Homo sapiens: one gene and its partner. The protein of the gene in region 1 purifies or fractionates together with the protein of each later gene. This does not show direct contact. Each region holds a gene or a part of one and is shown on either strand. Other genes may lie near its edges.

Region 1 (5,015 bases):
CCAGTGACAGGCCCACTCTGAAGTGTTCCTAAAGCAGATCCCAACCACGCTGGGGGGCCCAACCCTGCCCGTCTCAACCCTCAACATCCTAAGCAAAGCAGGAGGGAGAGAAGCCTCAGAGGCAGAGCCAGCGTGCCGCCACTCGGGGAGCCTGGCAGAAGGCGGCTGGGCCCCAATCAGCGGAAACTCCTCCGACCTCAGTGTGAATCCCTCCAGAGCTCCAAGGAACCTCAGTGCTCACTGCAGTGGGGTTTAGCTTTGCAAGACTTCAGAGCAGCAACTTCTTGTCGTGAATGAGGCACCTGGATTCCATGCTGGGCTAATCCATCCTGCAGACACCATCACCTCCAAGACTGCAAGGTGCTGGCACAACGACGCACCCAGAACTACAGTGTGTCGTGTCCCCAGAAGGCAGGGTAGAAAATGTTCGTCCAGCTCCTCCCTCAGCCTGGCTGCTCTCCTTCCTGCAGCCGCAGCCACGGGAGTTGCTGGCTAGATTCCCTCCCCTCAGCTGAGTGTTCCTGTCAGGACAGTGACCATCCTGCCCCTGCTCAGCCTCCTGAAGACCCCCGGGGCCTCTGGCTAGACCCCCACTAAACCTCCCAGTGAGGCCCTGCACTTACTGACGCCCACTGCAGTGGGATCAATTCCCTCAACACCATGGACCAGGCATGAGGCAGCACAGCACCAGCTCCCTCTGGGAGCCACCAGCTGCCAGCCCTGCCCTGGGGACCTTCAACGCCCAACTCTGAAGGCAGGTGCTCAGACCCTGAGCCCCCGGTTCCTAAGTGGCTCTCGTTAGCCTGACTCCCATGGGGGGCTCCTTCTTCTGCTGTGCGTCACCCACCTCCTGCCCTGCCCCGCCTTCTGGATGGGGACACACGCTTACTCTCCCTCTTTATCTGCACACCAGGTACCCCGGGCAGGTCACAGTGTGTGCTTCTGCTTTCTCTGGGGACCGCGCTGGGTGTGACCCCCAAGGGCAGCCTGCACCCGTGCTCTCACCTTCCAGCATGGCCCAGTTCCCACGAAGAACACCAGAGACTTTCTTTAACACGGTGCTCTCAGGAACAGACTGCAGGCGACAAACAGGAAATCTTCATCAGAAAGAGGCAGGCCTGGAAACCCAGCACCAGGACGCAACACATGCTGGCCAGAGAGGCTTGCAGGGGAGGTCCCCTCCTGGTGCCTGGGGACCCCCATTCACCTTCTGTGGAGACCTGGGGAGGCAGCCCCCGCAGCTGGCCCATGATGCCAGGGCAAGCTCTTCACATGCAGTTCATCAACCTCAGGGGCCAGCAGGTGCGACAGGCACCCACTGGGGACATCATGTGGCCTGCCACTTCTCAGGTAAAAAGAACTGGATGGCTTAAAAGTGCTTCCAGGTCAGGCGCAGTGGCTCATACCTGTAATCCCAGCACTTTGGGAGGCCAAGGCGGGCGGATCACCTGAGGGTGGGAGTTCAAGACCAGCCTGACCAACATGGAGAAACCCCGTCTCTACTAAAAATACAAAATTAGCCGGGTGTGGTGGCGCATGCCTGTAATCCCAGCTACTCGGGAGGCTGAGGCAGGAGAATCACTTGAACCCGGGAGGCGGAGGTCGCGGTGAGCCGAGATAGCGCCATTGTACTCCAGCCTGGGCAACACGAGCAAAACTCCGTCTCAAAAAAAAAAAAAAAGTGCTTCCAAAGTGCTCAACTGAGCTTTGGCAAATGGGTACCTACTCCACTCAACTCCACAGCAACCCTGTGAGACGCAGGGCGGGCAGGGGCATTGCTCCGTTACCAGGAGCGATGCAGACAAGGTACAGGGTTCGCCCCGTCCCCCAGCAAGGAAGCAGCTCGGCCCGCCGCCCTCGCCCAGAGACCCCACTGTCTCCCCAGAGGAAAGCAGCTCAGCCTGCCGCCCTTGCCCCCTCCTCTACCCGGGGCTCCACATGCTCCTGAGGACTCAGCCAGTGCCCCAGGCCCGAGGCTGTGCTAATCCAGCCTCCAAGTGTTAGTCCCACACACCCTTGCCACACTGAGTGCCAACTTCATCGCTAAGTGTGGTGTGGGGGGCCACACACTCACCCAAAAAAAGAACTGTTGCAGACATCACCACATGGGACAAGCCAGCCACGCCGGCCTGGCACCCGGCTCCCTTCACCCACGGTGGAAGCCCCAGCCACTGCCATTCAGGACACAGACCCTGGGCCCCAGAAGTGGCTGAGTTGAAAGAGGCTTACCCATGGACCCAAAAAACATAGCTGCCGCCCCACACCCCCAGGCTTATGGAAAGGCAGGGCATAGGACATCTGGAAGGTGCCGAGTCTCACCTGCCACTGGTCGCCCACAGGCCTGTAGAGCACCAGGGGGGCTTCCTGGCAGTCCTGGAGCACCCACAGCCCCTGGGTCTCCTCGAAAGCCACGTCCCACACTTGGTGCTGGAACGCCAGCTGCTGCCTGTACACCAACTGCTGTCTGCGGGCGTCCAGCTGGAAGATGTAGACCACAGGAGTGCTTGCCACGAAGAAAGAGAGCATGATTACTAGGACTGCAGGCCCACGGGCTCCGCTCTGCAGCCAGCACCCCAGACGGTGCAGCCCTCGCCGGTGCCACCTCAGGAGAGCCTACGCTGAAAGCCCCAGCTGCGCCACTCCCAAATGCCGGCGCCGGGGAAACCATGGGGTGACGTACACTTTTTTAAGTCCTAAGCTCTGGAGTGGCTCGTGGTGCAGCAATAGCTAACCAGCACGGTACAGGCAGGCAGGGCAGGAGGACGCAGGCCCTGGGCTCAGGCGCAGCTCTCCTCTCACACCTGCGTACTTCCAGAACGAGCTAAGAGACCTCCCCAGGCTGTCATAAGGACAAGATGAAAAGTGCCGAAAGCACCAAATAGAATACCTTTCCTGACACACACAAGTCACTCGGGAAGAAGCAGCAGAACTGCACTCCACCCCTAAACCCACCTTGTCAGCACCGCCAACCCCAGGGGGTTCCCATCCGACCAGCCCCGAGCCGGGAGTGAGGTGATGCCACCACGACTGGCCCAGGGGAAAGTCTGTCATCTCAGAAGGCCAGGCAGAGGCTGCTGGTGCTCTTTACGCCAGGGGAGTTCAACGTCAGGTTGAAGAGCGCTGGCTGAGAGGAGCCCTCACCCTCATGCAGCAGCAGTCATCAAAAGTGACATTCTCAGAGGGAGGTGCTAGACCAATACCACCACCGTTCAGGACCTCTTCATTGAGGACGTGGGCCAGTGGCCAACCCGCTAACTCTTCCCCCTGCAGGTCTGCAGAACCGGAGGCCATAGAGGTGCCGCCGCAGCTTACCCGTCGCACAGGAGCGCCACGCAGTTCTCCTGGCACCAGAATGCAATCCTGGACGCGGCAAACTTCTAAAAGGAGAAGAAGCCCATTAACTTCACGCCACCTGCAGGGGCCCGACGCCGGGCGCTCTGATCCAACAAGAGCAAGACCGAAGGACGCTCACGCCCCCACATATCAAGGAAGAGGAAACAGCACTGGAACATTCTGGAATCAGTGGGGAAAGGAGGGTAGCTGATTCCCTGTTTCCCAAGCAGATGACAAAAGCCCCCCAGTGGTTCTGGCACTCCCTGCAGGGCCTGCGACAGCCTCCAAAGCCAACAAGATAGGTCAGACAGTGAGGAGAAGAGGGAGCGGAGGACACAGGGGAAAGGAAGAGATGAGAGCTACACATACAACTGCCCTGTGAGCTCCCACAGTTCCTGGCAGAGGAAATATTAAAAATGAAGAAGAGGCCGTGCACAGTGGCTCACGCCTTTAATCCCAGCTACTCAGGAGCCTGAGGCGGAGGTTGCTGTGAGTCGAGATAGCACCACTGCACTCCAGCCTGGGCAAGAGTGGGACTCCATCTCAAAAAAAAAAAAAAAATTTTTTTTAAATGAAGGAAACTTCCAGGAACCTGAGTCCACGTGAAGCATGAAGGAAAAGGCCTGGTCCTCTCTTACACAGCTGCCTGGCAGGGGGCAGAGGCCACACCACACAGTTCTCTAGGAAATGGAACAGACCGTTTGGCGGGAAACTTTGCCAAGGCCTGGGCTTTCAGGGTGTCATGAGATTGCTCCAAGCTGGCCGGAGAATGCTGGAGTGGGCCTGGCCCCACCCCTGCCCCACCTGGCTGGCAGACCCACAAAGGTGCATGCTCAAGCACCTCCATTCCTTCCACTTCAGAGCAGGATTAGAGGCCTTCCTGTACATTAACTGTTTGCATGCAACAGGGAGACAAATTATTTCCCACTGACATGACGAGCCACCTTCAGAATTTGAAATACGAGATTTCCCTCACACAGGAGGAAGTCTGGCATTGAGAGCAAACGTTTCCAACGGCGAAGTGACTTTTCCACTCAAGTCAGGCGACTGCCGGTGTCTACAAGCACTCAGTCGCCCAGGAGTGAACAGAAGCAGCTACCTGGGGGGCCTGGGGGTCCACCAGCTCCTGCAGACTGGCCAGGTGACAGCAGTGCAGCTGGCGGCCGCTCCTGTACTCCCAGAGCCTCAGGGTGCCGTCCTGCACAAACCAAACACACAGGTTAGCACATGGTTGTGGGGCTTCCGTCAGGTAGGGTGACAGAGAGGACAGCTGCGTGTGGTCGGGGTTCCACTCCGTGACAGCCATGCCACCCACCCTCAGGAATTAAAGGCTCTCTGCTCTGACTGTGTAAATCGCTCATGCAAATCATCAAGGACAACGGTGGGGAACGGAAGGTGACCGATTCCCTGTTTCTCGAGTGCCAATATGCCCAGGCAGATGACAAAGCCAATGAGGCAGATCCTAGCAAAATAAGCCAAGGCCGCTAGATGGCCAGGTTGTCATCCGCCAGGAGGCCAGACCACATCTGCTGTGCCCGGGCCGGGCATAGACACGGGCATGCACACAGGTCTGCGCAGACACTTCAGCAATCATGCATTCCCACGGGGAGACACGTGTGGGCTCATGAGCTCGTGGCCACTGCTCCACTTCACTAAGAATGACAGGAAGGACATGGCCATCA
Region 2 (5,108 bases), on another chromosome or scaffold:
TATAGAAGTAATTTTAGTTCTATTCTGGAGGCTGATATAGTGTCCTATGACTAGCGTCTTAGAAACAGAAAGGGCTGTCTCATCCTGGGAGTTGGGGAACCCAGAGGCTCATGTTAAAGGCAACAGGATGGCCAGCACTTTGGGAGGCTGAGGTGGGAGGATCACTTGAGGCCAGGAGTTCAAGACCAACCTGGCTAACATGGTGAAACCCCGTCTTTACTAAAAATACAGAATTAACTGGGCATGGTAATTTTGAGCCTGTAATCCCAGCTACTTGGGAGGCTGAGGCAGGAGAATTGCTTGAATCCAGGTGGTGGAGGTTGCAGTGAGCTGAGATGGTGCCACCGCACTCTAGCCTGCATAACAGAGTGAGACTCTGTCTTCAGAAGTAAATAAATAAATAAAGACAACCGGACAGGTGCCTGTGTGCCTCTCTTAAAATCTTCGGAAAGATCTCTTTGCTGCCAAGACTTGTGCTTAGCCCTCTATTCAGAGGCTGGTTATGGGGCAGCGGCCTTCTCTTGGCCACCCTGCCCTTGCAGATGAGGGGCGGGCACTGGGAGCATGTTATCACCTTACCTGGTATGTGATATGTGGGAGTCTCCCAGTTCCCAGACTTCACCAAATCACTGCCCAAATTCTCATCAAGTGACCAGTAGTGGGGAAGTGACTGAACGCTGAGGAGACAATCTTTGTGGTGACGCCATGTGTGTACGTGGCAGTGATCCCCAAGATATTTTTACAAGGGGTCAAGTGAAAAATCATACTTTTTTCCCTTCTGTCTCACCCTTGTCTTATGTTTTTCATACACAAAAACTTACACTTCTCCCTCTCTGTAGCCTTCCAGGATTAAGGGAGGTTCAGATTTTCTAAGTCCTGTCAATCCACTTTAAAGAAGCTGCTTAATAAAGACCCTGCTATCATGATGTTAGAGAATTGTATCTTTCTGGTGGGATAATGAGCGTGGGCCCACTGGGAATTGTTTCTTATCATTTCTTCCCCCTGTAGGTCTGAAGGACACACCAACTCAGGAAGACTGGCTGGTGAGTGTGCTTCCTGAAGGATCCAGGGTTGGTGTGGACCCCTTGATCATTCCTACAGGTAAGTGAGCTTGGTCCCTTTCTGCTTGGGTAAGGAAGTGGCTTCTAGATTCCCCTCCATTCTCCTCATTTGCTTGTGGGGTGTGGAGCACTGGGGGGCTCAGCATGACTGATTTTATAGTAGAGGTCAGGGTGAAGAGAAGAGTTCCACTGGTGGTGAAGATGTGCTTTTACAGTTCCTCATCCTGCACACCCAGCTCTGGGCCATGGCAGGACCACCTTTCTGAAGGTTCTGGACTTTCAAGGCCCTGCTCCCTGCCCTGCTGCAATGGGCGTTCGGCTCATGGCTGGGCCACAATGTGTCTCCTCAGATTATTGGAAGAAAATGGCCAAAGTTCTGAGAAGTGCCGGCCATCACCTCATTCCTGTCAAGGAGAACCTCGTTGACAAAATCTGGACAGACCGTCCTGAGCGCCCTTGCAAGCCTCTCCTCACACTGGGCCTGGATTACACAGGTCAGAATCAATGGTTCTGCCCAGCAGGGCCCCTGCCATTGTCCCCCCACCTCTTGCTATTGTCTCCAGCCTCGTCCTCCGAATCCAAGTCGAGTTGGAGCTGACAGGAGGATTTTGCCCTACTCTGCCCCAGTGGGATATTTGAAGAAGCAGGAGCTTTGTTTGTTTCCACTGTTGCCACCTACTTGCCACTTAGTTTGGCTTTGGTTATTTTCGCAAAGCTCGTTTGGGTGGCTTTTTGGGTGCTGCTGAAAAGACTGAGTTTTTTTTATCCACTCAGCTGCTAACTGCCACTCGAACGTATTTGATATTGGAAATAGAGCATAGAGGTTTCTAGGTTCCATTTCCCTTCTTATGTCAGCATTTGTAGATTTACCTTCCTAGGCCTTTGTCCTCCATCTTGTACCTTCTGCTTTAGAGGCTTTGGGGTGTGGGTGTGTTTCCTTGGCCTGTGCGATAGTGATGGGTAAGCAGCATGTTCTCTGAACCATTGTGTGGATTTATGAAGCAGTGAGGGGGCAGAGAGAGAGGCCTGGAGGTGGGGCTGCAGGGGAGGGCGTCTTGCTGTAGAAACAGAGGTAGATGGGGGATGGCTGTGGAATGTAGGCAGATTGCCCAGAGGGGTCCTGGGAAGAAAGCGTGACAGCCTAGATTCTGGGCCAAGTTTTAAACAGCATTCCCGAACTGATCTTCAGTGCAGCCCTGGGTGTGGGGGCAGCCCCAGCCTGCTTTCTTGTGTGACATCCTCACCAGAGGGGTATTGCGGAATGGGGAGGATGGGTCCAGTGAGTGGCCCAGGGTCAGCTAAATATTTTCCATCAGCGTGGTTTGAAGTTTTTTTCACTAGAGCAGAAGCTCTGACTTGTTGCTTATAGGAGAGGGGAGAGCAAATGTTGCTGTTCAGTACACATTTGGGTGCCTACTATCTGCAGGATGCTGTGCGAGGTGCTGAGTGAATAAGACAGATGCCCACCCTGCTCACAGGTGGCTGTTCCCTGAGTTATGAATGCTGCCCTGGTAGGGTGGTTGTGGTGGCAATGGGGTGAGCTCCTCTAGCACCACGATTTCATCTTGCAGAGCAACAGAGAGGCCTTGGCAGTGTCTGAAAGGGCAAGTGTGATTTGGAAGTGGTAATCACAGTGAGTCAGACTACAGGGAATTCCTAGGTCTTAGCACTGAAAGGCAAGTCTTGCAGCCCCCAGGAACATCAAGTGGTGGGTGCTGTTCCCCTGACCCCTGAGACTGGGTGAGTTCCCTTTGCTGGGTAGTGTGTTGATATAGGTCCCTGTGTGTCCCCTGTTGCATCAGTATTTACAGTAGTGTGTTAATTGCTGGTTTAATTATCTGTCTTCCCTTCTATATTGTAAGCCCCATGAAGACAGGGACTGGGTCTGGCTCAGATCTGTAACCACAGTGACCAGCAGAGTGCCTGGCACGTATCTATGCCTGGCAGATCTAGATGTTACACAGGCATTTGTGGGATGCGTAAATGAATGAATTTTACTGGTGAGGCAATCAAGGCTCACGACAGTCAAGTGGCTTGGACACTTCTTGTATAGGGCTTGAATCCAGGCCTCCTGCCTGTTTAAGTAGCGTGCTCCTGTAAGAAATGGTGCTGATTAAAGATGTTTAGGGTAGGTTCTTTCACTGGGTTCCTACTGCTTTCTGGGACCAGGGCTGGAGTTAAAGCACATTTGTTTCTTGCAGGCATCTCCTGGAAGGACAAGGTTGCAGACCTTCGGTTGAAAATGGCTGAGAGGAACGTCATGTGGTTTGTGGTCACTGCCTTGGATGAGATTGCGTGTGAGTGCTCTGGTTTCGCTGTTTGGGCATGTTACCCGATCTCTCCTTTGGGTCTCTGGGTATCTGTGTGTTCATGCCATTCAACTTTCTGAGTGGCCAGGGAATAAGAAGAAGACTACGTCACCAAATGGGTATAGGAGATGCCAACTAGGATGAAGGAGAAAGAATTACAGGGAGCTGGGGAGGGGAGTGAGGCTTGTCCAGAGCAGTATTACAGCTGGGTGATGCCCACCTCTGGCCAGTCCCTCAGGACCATGGCACCTCTGAGGAAGGGCATTTCCTACAAATATTTTATGTCTGTCAGCCTCTGTAGGTGTAGAAGTGGGCTCATAGGAGAGGCCTTCTTTCTTTACACTTGTCCTGTGGTTTCCTAAGGTCTTTATAGTGAGAATGTTCTGGGAGCATTTCTACCTCAGAAAACTAGGAACTAAAAGTTCCTCCCCAAGCCCTTTGATGTAATAGTAGTTTCTCAGTCTTTGGACCTTAACCCACCTTCATGCAGTTGTTCAGCACCTTCTTTCATCTAAAACCTGACGGAATCTGGTTGAACCTTCCTGTCCTGTCTTCTGGTTTCTGAGTGGATTTGACCCAGGGCAACTGAGAAGAGGCACTGCTTTATCTTTTTGCCTTCTCACTAGAGAATGAGACCCTACTGCAGTGTCCTCTCTCTTCAGTCCCTGCATCTTCCATCCACAAAACATTGTCAAGTGTGTCAGTGACTTACATCCCTAATTAACTTAATGATCTCAACGTCAGAGAAAAACACCTGTAAAACTTTTCTCTCTCCCTGATTGTAACAAAAACACAATCCCATGATAGAAAACTTGGAAAATGCAGAGGAAGTAAAAAGAAGAAAAAAAAAATCACGTATAAATTCTGTTACTTAGAGATAATCAGTGTCAATATTCTATGCATATATCATTTTATAGCCTGATTTTTTCACTGTATCAGTACACTATAAGCATATACAAGCATAATTTTAAGTGAGTATTAAATACTCCATCATGTGGTTATACCATAATTTATTTAACTGTTTCCCTAAGGATGACCTTTGGGTTATTTGCAGTAATCCTGTAATTTATTATGATGCTACCATCAAAATCTTGGTTCATGAATCCATGTCTTAGTGTTTGATAATTTTCTTCCTATTTCTGGTTGGCTTTTAGGGCTTTTGACTCATCTTGCCCTTTGTCTGCCAGAAAGTTTGCACCTTTGTATTTGAATTTGTCTGTCTTGCCACACCTGAACACCAGGTACTGTCATTTTTAAAGAAGTGCTAGTATGATAGGTAAAAAATGGTGCCTCATCACTTTAAGAAGCCATTATTTTAAAATAGAGGTTATACTTTTAATGCCCAGGCGTTTTTTTGCTCTGATCCTCATGAGAACAAGTGACGGAAGCTGGAAGTCCTGGGACCAGAACTGTGCTCTCTCCTGGTCTGTCTAGTTCTCAGACGTTCAGCAACATCACTGTTACTGGCTGTCCGCAGGTCCCCCACCCAGTCGTGGTGCCAGAGCAGACCCATGGGTGGGCTGCAGGCTCTGATTTCATTGGTGAGCTGCAGCCTTGCTGACTCACTGCTTTTCTTTCCACCTCTGACAGGAAGCTCCGTCTCCATGGGGCTCACTGACCCTTACAGAGGAGGCTTGCCTGGCTTCCCTTGTGGGAGGGTCTCAGTTTTTCTACCCTAGGTCATCTGCCTCAGAAGGGAGAGAGTGCTCGTCTCCTTCCTTTTTATTTGGGAGCGCCA

The links.
Region 2: the proteins of WDR4 (region 1) and XPNPEP1 purify together in Homo sapiens (affinity purification with mass spectrometry; 2 studies listed by BioGRID and IntAct, with this or other methods). This does not show direct contact.

Annotation. Positions count from the first base shown.
Region 1 is NC_000021.9:42,851,250-42,856,264, forward strand, and holds part of WDR4 (tRNA (guanine-N(7)-)-methyltransferase non-catalytic subunit WDR4), read right to left. Parts: intron 4,532-5,015; coding exon 4,433-4,531; intron 3,378-4,432; coding exon 3,313-3,377; intron 2,504-3,312; coding exon 2,320-2,503; intron 1,076-2,319; coding exon 1,006-1,075; intron 1-1,005. UniProt on the Homo sapiens protein: Non-catalytic component of the METTL1-WDR4 methyltransferase complex required for the formation of N(7)-methylguanine in a subset of RNA species, such as tRNAs, mRNAs and microRNAs (miRNAs).
Region 2 is NC_000010.11:109,884,496-109,889,603, reverse strand, and holds part of XPNPEP1 (xaa-Pro aminopeptidase 1), read left to right. Parts: intron 1-1,008; coding exon 1,009-1,101; intron 1,102-1,411; coding exon 1,412-1,555; intron 1,556-3,262; coding exon 3,263-3,358; intron 3,359-5,108. UniProt on the Homo sapiens protein: Metalloaminopeptidase that catalyzes the removal of a penultimate prolyl residue from the N-termini of peptides, such as Arg-Pro-Pro. Contributes to the degradation of bradykinin.